Linked DNA regions of Homo sapiens: region 1 is reported to be linked to region 2. Evidence: microRNA targets listed by miRTarBase, many of them from high-throughput screens and not tested one by one. Region 2 holds a microRNA gene; the other region holds the end of a gene's coding sequence.
What was found. The annotated mature microRNA hsa-miR-6068 reads CCUGCGAGUCUCCGGCGGUGG and lies in region 2 at 2,237-2,257, shown strand. An mRNA with a match to its seed (bases 2 to 7 or 8) in the 3' UTR can be bound and repressed. Matches are read on the target gene's strand: a 7mer-m8 pairs with bases 2 to 8, a 7mer-A1 pairs with bases 2 to 7 and ends in A, and an 8mer does both.

Region 1 (5,381 bases), not on the chromosome of region 2:
TACTCACGGGTGAAGTATCTCCTATTAATGCTACAATTTGAAATTATACATAGTGTTTGATGTAATATTCTCCAAATACAGGGATCCAGTTAACTATAATGGTACTAATGTGATGTTATATGTCTGGCCTACACTTGGTCATTTTTCTACCACCAGGAATGAGTCACAAATGGCCTTCACAACTTAAAGGTACAAGAAAAGAGGCTATAATCAAGTGGTTTGTAACAAGACACCTTTAAAAATAGTCTCCCTTTAGAAAATACTGAGACATTTGTGCTTTCCATCCACACCTCCCCCAAAACCAGTTCCCATGAAGTTCCACCTGTACTACCACTTTCACCTGCATGTTCACAGAAACAAATTGAATGCAGAGTCTCCCTGACGATTCATGAACTGCAGAATCCCCAGAGTAGAGATTCCTAAACTCTGCCAAGAGACTGTGCTGTGCAAACCTCTCGATACACAACTATGACCATAGCAAATGAATTTTTATCACCAAACCTTGCAATTCCTTCTCAGTTTAGCTTCCCAGTTTTCATTTTCCCCATCCTTTCCCTTTTTATCCAACTCTAGATTCAAATCATTTCACCTTTGAGCATCAGTACTCTCTTCTAAGCATACGTAATTCCCAAAAGAACACTGCATCTTCAATACTAAAATGATAAATACCATGAAAAGGCTCATAAATAACAGTCAGAAGTTGAACTACATTTTTTTATTCCTATCTTGGACATACTGAGCAATACGAAAAGTGATAAGCCAAGTTAAACCTGCAGTCAAAAAAAAACTGGTGTCAATCATACTCCACAAAGTGTTGAGGAAATGGTATCAATCCTCAGGATTAATACAATCTAAGGCTTACTTGTTTAGGAGCATTTCAAAAATATAACACTTAACATCAGAAGAAAATGATCTATAGGGATAAAGAAAATAAAGATCTATAGGCATAACCAGAAATCAGATCTCATAATGTACAGATTTCTCTATTTACAGTCCCATATATTAAATGATTTAAGGACTCAGTTAAGCAGCTGGGTCGGCTGGTATTACAAACTATCTTACTGTAAAAGATTTTGTGATACTGTTATATTAGTTCCAAATATGAAAATAAACCGGTTATATTTTGATAGCAGCCATATATAAAAGTTCAGTGGCAGAGACTGAGAGATAAGTCTAAAATGTTGGCAGTCTGTATACCTTCAGATAAATAAGAAATCTATTCAGTTTTAGACAATCCAAGATATACTTTTTGAAGACTTCCATGCATAGATAAAACTATTGACAAATGTTCTCCATATAGCCTATCAAGAGGATTTTATCACATCATTTGAAATAGGGGTGAAAAGGGGAGAGGAAGTATCTTTAAACTTCAATATGCAAAGTACAACTTCAGTTATCATACCTCTCTTCTGTAAAGAGGAAGAAGAGAGAGTATCAGAAATGTTAAAAGTCACGCAGGGAGAAGTCCAATAGTAGATTTATTTGCTCCCAAGATTAAAGGGAGCCTGGAAACCTGTAGTCATTAAACACTAGCCATCGGGAATACGGCTTCCTTCCTTTTAACTTGAAGGCCAATTTCATAAACTGCAACACCTATACAAAACAAAATTAATTACTTGCAATGTGTGAGTTATAATGACTTAAGGAAACTATTTGTGCAATGTACCTGAAAGCCACTTTCTGGTGGCCTTTCCAGTCTATTATTATAGAAATATTGCACATAAGGATAAAGACATGAGATTCCCATTCCAGATGACAAAGATAACAGCCGCATTATCCTGCATGAACCAGGGTAACTCTTGCTATACAATCCACTTGAAGCCTTGTTTCAACATTACAGAGGGAGGCACTACTTAAATTTGGAAAAAAGGAAATAATTTCAAAACTACCTGTTAAAACTTAGAAAGTAACACTCCTCAAACTTACTGCCAATCACAACTATGAATTCCTGGTGCCAAAGGCAACAATAATTTTGAAAGTAGTCATCCTATCTTAAAAGGATTTATAATAAAATATTTCAAAACATTCCCCAGAAACAGTGAACAAGAAATACATCACAAACAGCTACTGTACCGCAGATACAGGTTCAGCTCAATTGTCTGGGGAAGGTAAGGTTAAAGTCACAGGAAACAGCTGGTCTCAGAGTGATGTGTGCAAGCCTTTTTCAAAGACAAACTTATAAACAGCTCCTCACAAGCCAGACATCACCTGAATTCTAAAATAAACATTTTTATTAACTGTTTCCATCATTTTCAAAGATTGAAAAAGTCTGATGTCAAGATCTTCAAAAACAACTTTCCATTTGAAAAAAGGCTTTATGATAAAAAAAAAAAATGGTTGAGGTACTTAGTTTCAATGGAGTTACCAGATGAAATGTAGTTGGTAAACAACAGTAGTCAGCACTGGGGTGAGACCCATTTAAAAACAACCCTACCTGGTGTTTTTATTGTAATTCAAGTTTGAAATACCGAGGAGCTTTTTCACAGAATAGGTTTAAAAATAAAACCATAACAATTGGCAAGGGTAGTCCATGTGTTGCGGGTCTACGAATTCTAACTCTCGAGAATGGTGTGCCAATAATATCCACAGACATTTGTACTCTAAATACCTGCATATTCAGTGGCCTATTCCTGTGTTGTCTACAAAATCAGAATAATTTATTCCTGGGTGTAGAAATAACTTCTTAAAAGTTATTTGAGATTACTAATTTCAAGTAATTACTAATTTTATTTCAGACTGCGTATTTCCAGTGTCAACATGTTTACATATATACCAAAAAAAGGCCACTATATGTTAACTGTGTAGAGCAAAATTCAATTTTTCCACTTTCAATTTCCACTGAAAAACGCTGTTATCCTCTACAACTAAACAGCAAGTCCTTCTATTATATGGGGTAGTGAAGTAATCTACACTACAGCATTATCAAGGTTCACTTAGGTTTTTAGTATTTATCTGAAATAAAAGTCTGAAAATGAGGAATCGAGAAAGTCAGCATTTCAACTTTTGAGAATAAAAGTTCATAAACATACCTTTTGTTGAATTCCAGCTTATGTGATTTTTATGTACATCTTGCAGGTGATGAAAAGCAAAAAGCAACCAATCTCTCTGTGGTGTTTAGCCTGTTCTTTAAGACTATGGGTCACCTGCCCCGGGGAAATTTCTAATTGAACAAAGAATCCATGGGGCAAAGTAATTGTTTTTCAAAGGTGGGTCAGAATGGAACATTTATATCTTCACTTCAACAGGGAAGCAATGAAATGTAATCCTTTGAGTATCACATTTTTGGTAGATGCTACCGTGGTCTCTTATCCTTATTTCATGAGATCATTAGCCTGTGAATGTGTCCATGTTTTGACTTTAGAAATTTTTAAAACATGCTACTCCTGTGTTTCCTGTAAAACCTAAACATGTATATACAGAGCATCTTCATTCCTCATCAAATGTTTTTCCAGCATGACCAGTGTGCAACAGAGATTCAGTTTATAGAACCTGTCTTCTAAGAAAAAATACTTTTAGCTAAACCTCTATAATCATGACAAGAGATTGATTAAAATGCCAAGATAAGAAACGATTTATTATAGAGAGAAGAAAAATTTCTCATCCAAAATATAGAAATCTGTACAACTTTGCCACAATCAATATACATGAACTGTACAAATTTACACCAGTTCATAATTTACCAAATAAAAGATGACTAACAAAGTTCACAAAATAGATGGTGGTTTGTGGAAAAGACTTTTACCCAATTAAGTACAAGGAAAGTTACAAACCAGACCTCCACTTTCTAAAAATAAGAAGTTTACTCAGTCTTAGAAAACTACAAGCTAGCAAATGTACAGAGAGCTGGCTGGTGCTAACACCACAGTTGAGACAGTGTCTTTTTAAGGGTCTTTTTTAAAGCCTGTTGCCATGGCAGATTCTGGTCACTTGCTACTTTCAAGGCCAAAAACACAATACAAGGTCTGACCATTTCCCCAGGTCATGCTTACTAGTTTGTCTTTATGTACATTTATACATATTTAAGTGCTAGGTAAAAGTCTTGTAAAATTTCCAGTACTACCATGTTTAAAACGTTTAACTTTCCTATTAAAAGCTGCCGAAAAGGTTAACAATAACAACTTTCAAGTGTAATAGTGCAAATTCCCCTGCGAGATTTACTGCAGAGAAAGATTCTTTGAAATACAGATTTTCTTTAAAAGGATTGATGTAAAAATTTAGGTATGTCTGGGAGAAACTGAAACCACCCTAGGACTTCCCTCCCTAGCAAATAAAGTGATCATTTACTTGGACTCACAGGCTATTAAAATTAATCATTGAAAGGTACTGTCCAAACTATGGCACTGTCACTTAAAATTTTTTTTTTTTTTACCATTCTATCTTGTGCCAGATCTTCACAGCTGTGACATGGTTTAAATTCCATAATCCATCCCCAAGAGGAGCCCACCCAAAGCAAAAATCAAATTTATCCATCATCATCAGATGATCCATCCACAGACTATATCTTAACCTGATACAGTCATCATATTGTAGTTTTTGGAAGGGCTCGTTCTGCCCAAGAGAAGTTCCTCCTTACAGCTGATTCGGCTGTCTACCATTTGCACGTTGGTGCTGTTTTGAGTGCTACCTCCTGCTGGTGAGGCTTCATACAGCACACAGATGGAGCCATCCTCTCCAATTCTGTAGGACACTTCATAGGGGTCAACCCAGAGTGTGAGTTCACTTGGGAGAAGCCTGAACAGCTCCTGACTGCTCAGTCCAATCCGCTGTGCTGCCTGTCCAATCAGAGGATCCATTTTATGGTTGATGCGAATACAACGGTAACCCGATCCCTTGCATGGCTTTTCTGGGAACCAGTGATGTTTATAATGTTCTATAGAAGAAAAGAAGAACAGAGAAACAACGCTTAGGATCGTTAGCTCCCACTGCGGATTCCTCCTACCCCAGGCTCCTTTGAGGAGCGAAAATGAAAACTATCAACTTTTTAAAATGTCCAGGATTGCATCCGTTGTTGTGCATGTGCGGGGATGGAAAAAGCGGGCAGGGTTTTAGAAATAACACAGTAGTACCGGACAAAACAATCTCCAGGAACCAACCGGTTGAGCCGCCAAAACAGGAATCAGGCGCGCAGCCTCGGCCAGTCGGGAAGCCACTGGCACCTATGGCCAGGCGAGAAACTGTTTACTTTCTCCACCCCACCCCAGATGCACACAATGGAGTTGATGGCTTTGGAGATGAGAAGCGCCACCGGACTGTTAACCCCGAAGGGAAGAAAAACAAGCAACCCTAAACCACGCTCTGGGCAGGGCTGTTAATTGTGCCGGTGACAAATCCGATGATTAATGGGCAGGGGCAGGAGGCGCGGGGAGACGGCACGTCCGTTC
Region 2 (5,381 bases):
TTCGGGAAATAAAAATGAGATGGTTATGCTTTCTTACAGACACCCTGGCTAGTTTTACATTTCTTTTCAAATTTTGTTTTGTGTACCCCAGGGAGCAAAGAATGGCTTGTACATTCCTCAGAGGGCAAGGAGGGGGAGTGGCGAAGAGAGAAGTTGGCTCTGGGTGTAACTCTGCCAACTGTTGGAGGGCAGCAAGGGGAGGGTGGTCTTTTAAGTGAGTTTGGGATCTGGTTACCTTTAATTCGCCTCCCAGGCCGCATCTTGCACTAATGGGAGTCTGTCAGCGGTGGACTCAGATTTCCCCACTTGCCTCGGATAGTGGAAGCATAGGGGCAAACAGCAGAGTAGGCCGCTCTGCCAGAGAGAAGAGAGACGTATGCCCTGCCCCTGGAGCTGGGGGTGCAGGCTGAAGGATGGGTGGGCACCGAGAGCTTCTCCGCAGGCATAGTGAAAGGCCTACAGACCAGGAGGAAGCTCCACCTTTTAAAAGCCTCTTCTGGGGTGGGAGTTTCCTGGGATGGGTTCTGCAACCCCTCTTAGAAAAATCCACCTTTCATACCTAAAATCAAATGGTTCAGAACCGAGCCAATGTATTTGGCCGTGTACCAGTGCTTAGAACAGAGTTGTTTCTTCGTGCAGAAGCCATTAAAAAACACACTGTACACGCCCCCAGCACTTTACAGTTTATAAGACATTTTTCACTGACACCAACTCACCTAATTCTGTAAGCCCAGGTGACAGGCAGACTCATTCTCACTGTAGGGTCGAGGAAATGCAGTCATTGAAAGAAACCAAGCAGCTTGTCCAAAGTCACAGTTAGGAAATGCCTAATCCCTGTTGGAACGCCTTCTGCAAGGCCTTTCTCATCCCGCTTCTTCCTGTCGCCTCCTCCCTTGAAACAGACGGCTCCCCACAAGGTTCAGCCTGGCACTTTCAGAATGCCCTTCCAACCTCCTCCCTTCACTACTTTATTCTGCAGCTTGTACCACCGGGGACACAGGTGGAGTCCGGGGACACAAGGCTCTGGAACCCACTTTCTTTCAGATCACATACCCCTCAGGACAGTTTCTCAAGGGACTCACGTTAAAAATACCCACCTCTCACACACTCATGTCAGCCTTTCATGTTCTCACTACCAAGACTCACCCTATAAACCATGTGAAATAAATAACCTCAAATATAACTCTTAATTGCTTCCAAGTCAATGTTTCCTCATCACTAAACTTTATTGCCTCCCAATCTTTAGGACAAACTCCCCTCGGGACTCTGTTCCTCCCAGGACACAGGCGGGGGAAAGGAGGAAATCAGCTTCTCGAGATTCGACCTAGGCTTCCGGGGCCTGAGAATAAGCAAGGATGTCAGGAGGCTCAGAGCCTGGGAGGGAAGGAGAGGCGTCCGGGGCTGGGGCTGGACCATTCCAGACAAACCGCGAAGTTTTCCGTCTGCTCGTCGCCCCCTACAGGCCACATCTGCCATCGCATCGACAGCCCTCAACAGCCGGCACATGTTTTGCTCTACTCTTCATTCGCCTTTCCCCGGACATCCAGATCCACCCCTCCGAGGAACTAGATACGGGCGGTCCCAACTCAGACCTTGGTCCTGAGAACGCTCTAGGGGCCACAGGCCTCAGGGCTGGATTGATTTTTCTAGGAATGAGTGCTAGAGAAAGTAGAAACGTCTAAATGCGTGTGTAGCCGAAAGCTAAAATCTTCCCCATAAAAATCAACCCGCTTTCTTCTTTTATTGCAAATAAATCTGCCCCCCTTCCTTTAGTTTTTTTTTCTTAAGTGGAATAAAAAGTGGATATCAGTAGTGTTGACTTTAAATCTCAACGAGAGAGCTGTTTCCAGTGCCGTTTGTCGCAGGTGCCTGCGTTCCATAACATCAAACAAGGGTTTCAGGCTTCCCCCAGCCCCACCACTAAGTGCTTGCGATCATTGTCTATGATATTTGCATTTCCCATTTTGTGCTAAATCTTCGAGGTTTAAAAAGCTTAAACGAAAAAGAGCTTTTGAGGGTGCGACGGCCGGGCCCATCTTCCTGACATCTGCCAGGACTTTAAACAACCGCTGGCAGCTTGAGGGTCTGGGTCCGAGAGTTTCCTGCCTTCCACGACATAAAGGAAGGGGACCATCTTTAGGCCGTCGTTCAAGGGTAAGAACTGGCTGGAAGGAAAGTTGCCGGCAGGTCTCTCCCGTTCACCCCGCCGCCTAATGAATGTAGCGCTGGAAAAAGCCCTGCGAGTCTCCGGCGGTGGCTTGTGGCTGAGTGTCACGCTGCTGGCGCAGGCTCGGCCGGTATTGCTGCTATGCGCGGAAATATGAGCGAGTAATTTTATAAGTAACAAAGGATCAGGGATGGAATGAGGCCCCTGTTATCCAATGTCATTTAGAAGCCTTGGATCAGCAGCTTCTTGAGGCTAAAAGTGAATTCAAGAAGCCCTGCCTTTCCCTTTTCCCAGGGGCTGTCAGCTAAATTTAGAAATAACCTCTCTATGTGTTTGCACAAATCATGTACCATTTGCTGTTTGTGTAAAAACCGATTAGCCAGACACAACTGTGAAACAACTTGTTACTTTTATAGCTGCAACACACAAACAAAATTAGATCCGTTTAGTTTTCCTTGTAAAAGGAGATTAGAAGGGACCCGCCCGGAGACCGTGTGGTCCATAATCTCCTCTCGGTGAAGGTTACCATTGCTCCTCTCTCGGCGGTGGTTATCAGGTTCTTGTTTATCAAGTTAAACTATCTCACCCCCGGCAGCTTGTTTTATTTTAGGACCCTGATCCCGAAGGAATGTTTACTCAAGACACAATAATGTTTACCGTTTACCAGGAAAACAGATTGGGTATTTGCAAGGAAGTGTCTTTCAAAGCGACCCCCAGCCCACGTCGACAGCGGAGAAATGAGGTGGGATCCGAGACGGGGAGGCATCTCCACCACCAGGGAGGCAAAGTGGACGACAACACCGGGGACTGGCCGGGATTAACCAAAAGGACGCGCGCAGGGCCGAGCCGACAGCACTGCTACTCGCTCCAGTTTTTAAAAGCGATTTCGCACAAGTAATTGTAACAGCTAAATTAATTACAAAATAATTAGAATTGATGCCTTTTGAGGATATGCTGATGGTGGTGAGAACCAGCCTTCCACATCAAGATGTTTCATTTCTACCTTCATACTTTCTTTTAAAAGTTTTTAACAGCTGAAATGCAAATTAAAAATAATCTACAAGGACCTTCCCCATTCCTGCCCTATGATGTCGCATTTCACACTAACCTAGCCTAAGGTAAAGAAAAAAAAGGGGAGAGAGGTGATGTTCAGCTGTTTTTAAAAGGGTATTAAGGCCACCATTCCTTGGCCTTCAGAAAGGCTTTGGGTTGGAGGGAGAGGAAGCATCTATAGGACCCCTTCAGAAATCCAATTATGTTGTGGATTGATTATTGCCATATAAATGAGATATCTTATTTGAAAATATTATGAAAACAAAACTATGTATTATCTATCAGATGAACATAAATAAAATCCCACTGCAAAATGTAAAGTGCCTTAACATAAATTTTAAAACCAGCTGGGTCTATTTACCACTTCCACTTAAGGAATGAAAAGAAATAATTTCAAAAATCTAAGATTTAAATGTTAAAAAGAGGGATGTTTGGAATTTACTTACTTTTCAAAGGATAATTGAAATGACCAAGAACTCTCTCATTTGGGAAGTTTTCATTGTGGAAGATACAAGTCTAGTCATTTTTTAAAAAAATTTAAAGACTGCTGTTGTTTCGGTTTCTTTTTTTAAATGACAGCTTACTTTATCTACAGAAATGTCTGGTCATTTAGATTTAATGGGTTGATATGAATGATATCACTCACATCCTGATTTTATGTGAAAACTAAAAGAAAAATAGTAACACAATTTAAATTAGGCATACTATTTCCTTTCTCCAATTAAAATTTTCTTACACTCAAATTATGAATTTAAAAAGTTTGAAAAGGCCATTACTTGAAATTCCTTGATTTTCTGGGGAGGAGAAAAGGCAAATAAATACCATTTAAAAATCTTGCCATTTACTTCAGACAACTAAATAAAACACTAGGCTGGGCATTTTAAAAATTTATTTACAAAGTTGTGTACAACACGATGGAATAACATTTAGAATACCATATATATTCATTCATATATAAACAGACTTTTATAATAGAATGACACTTTTTGCCTTTTTGAAAATTTTTTATATTTAAAATCTCCCAACGTCTCTATACATTCTTTTCTCAGATAAAACTTCGGAGAGTGAACCTTCAAAAAAAATGAAAGTTCAGAGCTCTAAATCTACGGAATTTGTTTTTTCTTAAAAAAATAAAAACCCCAAAAGGAAAGTCAATAATTTTTTTACAAATATATACAAAGAATTTCCCTCCCATCCCCACGGTACTAAGAGCAGGCGCCGTCGGGGTGCATTTTTGGAAAATTCGGTTTTCGGTTTTACCTGTATGGAAAGCTATCCCCGGCGGGCGCGCGGTGAGTTTGCTCGACCAGCTTAGGTGTGCGCGAGGGGATGGAGGCCGCGGAAGGTAGGCGTTGGGGGCTCAGGGGAAAGGAAATTGGGGAGAGGCAGAGTCCAGGATTGGGCAGCGGGACCGGGACCGGGCTTGGGACAGGGCGCGCAGCCTGGAGGTGCATTTGTTGCTCGAGGCCGCCGCCGGACCCTGGGTCCCGGCCATTGGCGCGTCCCTATTGCGCCGGCCATTTGGCTTGAGCGGCGGCCGCAGCAGCGGCGGCGGCCGAGGCTGCGGGCTGCAGAAACTGTCCGGAGAGTGGCACGCTAAGAATGGGCGCGATGGTGGCAGTCGTCCGGCTCAGCGACAGCGGTTGGTGGGTGGCCATGAGCGCTGCCGACTGCACGGTCCCGGGTGGCCGCAGAAACGACTGCGCCGTGCTGCCGCCCCCTGAACCCCCAGTGCCGCCGGCGACCCCAGCGCCCACCGCCGAGCCCCCAGGAGCCGCGGGGCCCCCACCTATGATGTTCTCGATGCTGAACGACGGCCGCGCGCTTGGCTCGGACTTGATGAGCGACGCGGTGGTGCCCGCGGCGCCCGCTGTGCCCGCAGCGGCCGCGGCGGCGCCCAGGCTATTGAGCTGCAGCTGCAGGCCCGGGCCGAGCTGTGAGCCGAAGGCGGCCGCTTTGCGGCCCAGCTCGCCCGAGGGCAGCAGCGGCACAGCGGGAGGCAGCACCGGTGCCACCGGCGGCAGCGCGTACGGGTACTGGAGCGCCGCCGCAGCAGCCGCGGCCGCCGCCGCTGCCGGGTGCGAATAGGCACCGGCCGCCGCCGCAGGGTGCAGGCCGTAGGGGCGGCCGTAGGGTCCCGCGGCGCCGGCCGCCGCCGCCA

Region 1: miRTarBase lists BTG1 as a target of hsa-miR-6068. Seed matches in the 3' UTR shown: 7mer-m8 at 4,146-4,152.

What each region holds. Positions count from the first base shown.
Region 1 is chr12:92,139,578-92,144,958 of GRCh38, forward strand. It overlaps BTG1 (BTG anti-proliferation factor 1), which reads right to left. Exons shown (of 2, transcript NM_001731.3): 2 at 701-4,870. The coding sequence ends at 4,503. It overlaps LINC01619 (long intergenic non-protein coding RNA 1619), which reads right to left and starts at 3,254. Exons shown (of 5, transcript NR_132341.1): 1 at 3,030-3,254. RefSeq lists enhancers at 2,354-2,643, 4,671-4,910, 4,931-4,980, 5,241-5,290, 5,250-5,381.
Region 2 is chr1:63,323,840-63,329,220 of GRCh38, reverse strand. It overlaps MIR6068 (microRNA 6068), which reads left to right and starts at 2,237; the gene lies at 2,237-2,296. FOXD3 (forkhead box D3) reads right to left here. Exons shown (of 1, transcript NM_012183.3): 1 at 4,093-5,381. The coding sequence ends at 4,726. It overlaps FOXD3-AS1 (FOXD3 antisense RNA 1), which reads left to right and starts at 4,780. Exons shown (of 3, transcript NR_121637.1): 1 at 4,780-4,866. RefSeq lists an enhancer at 1,739-2,607.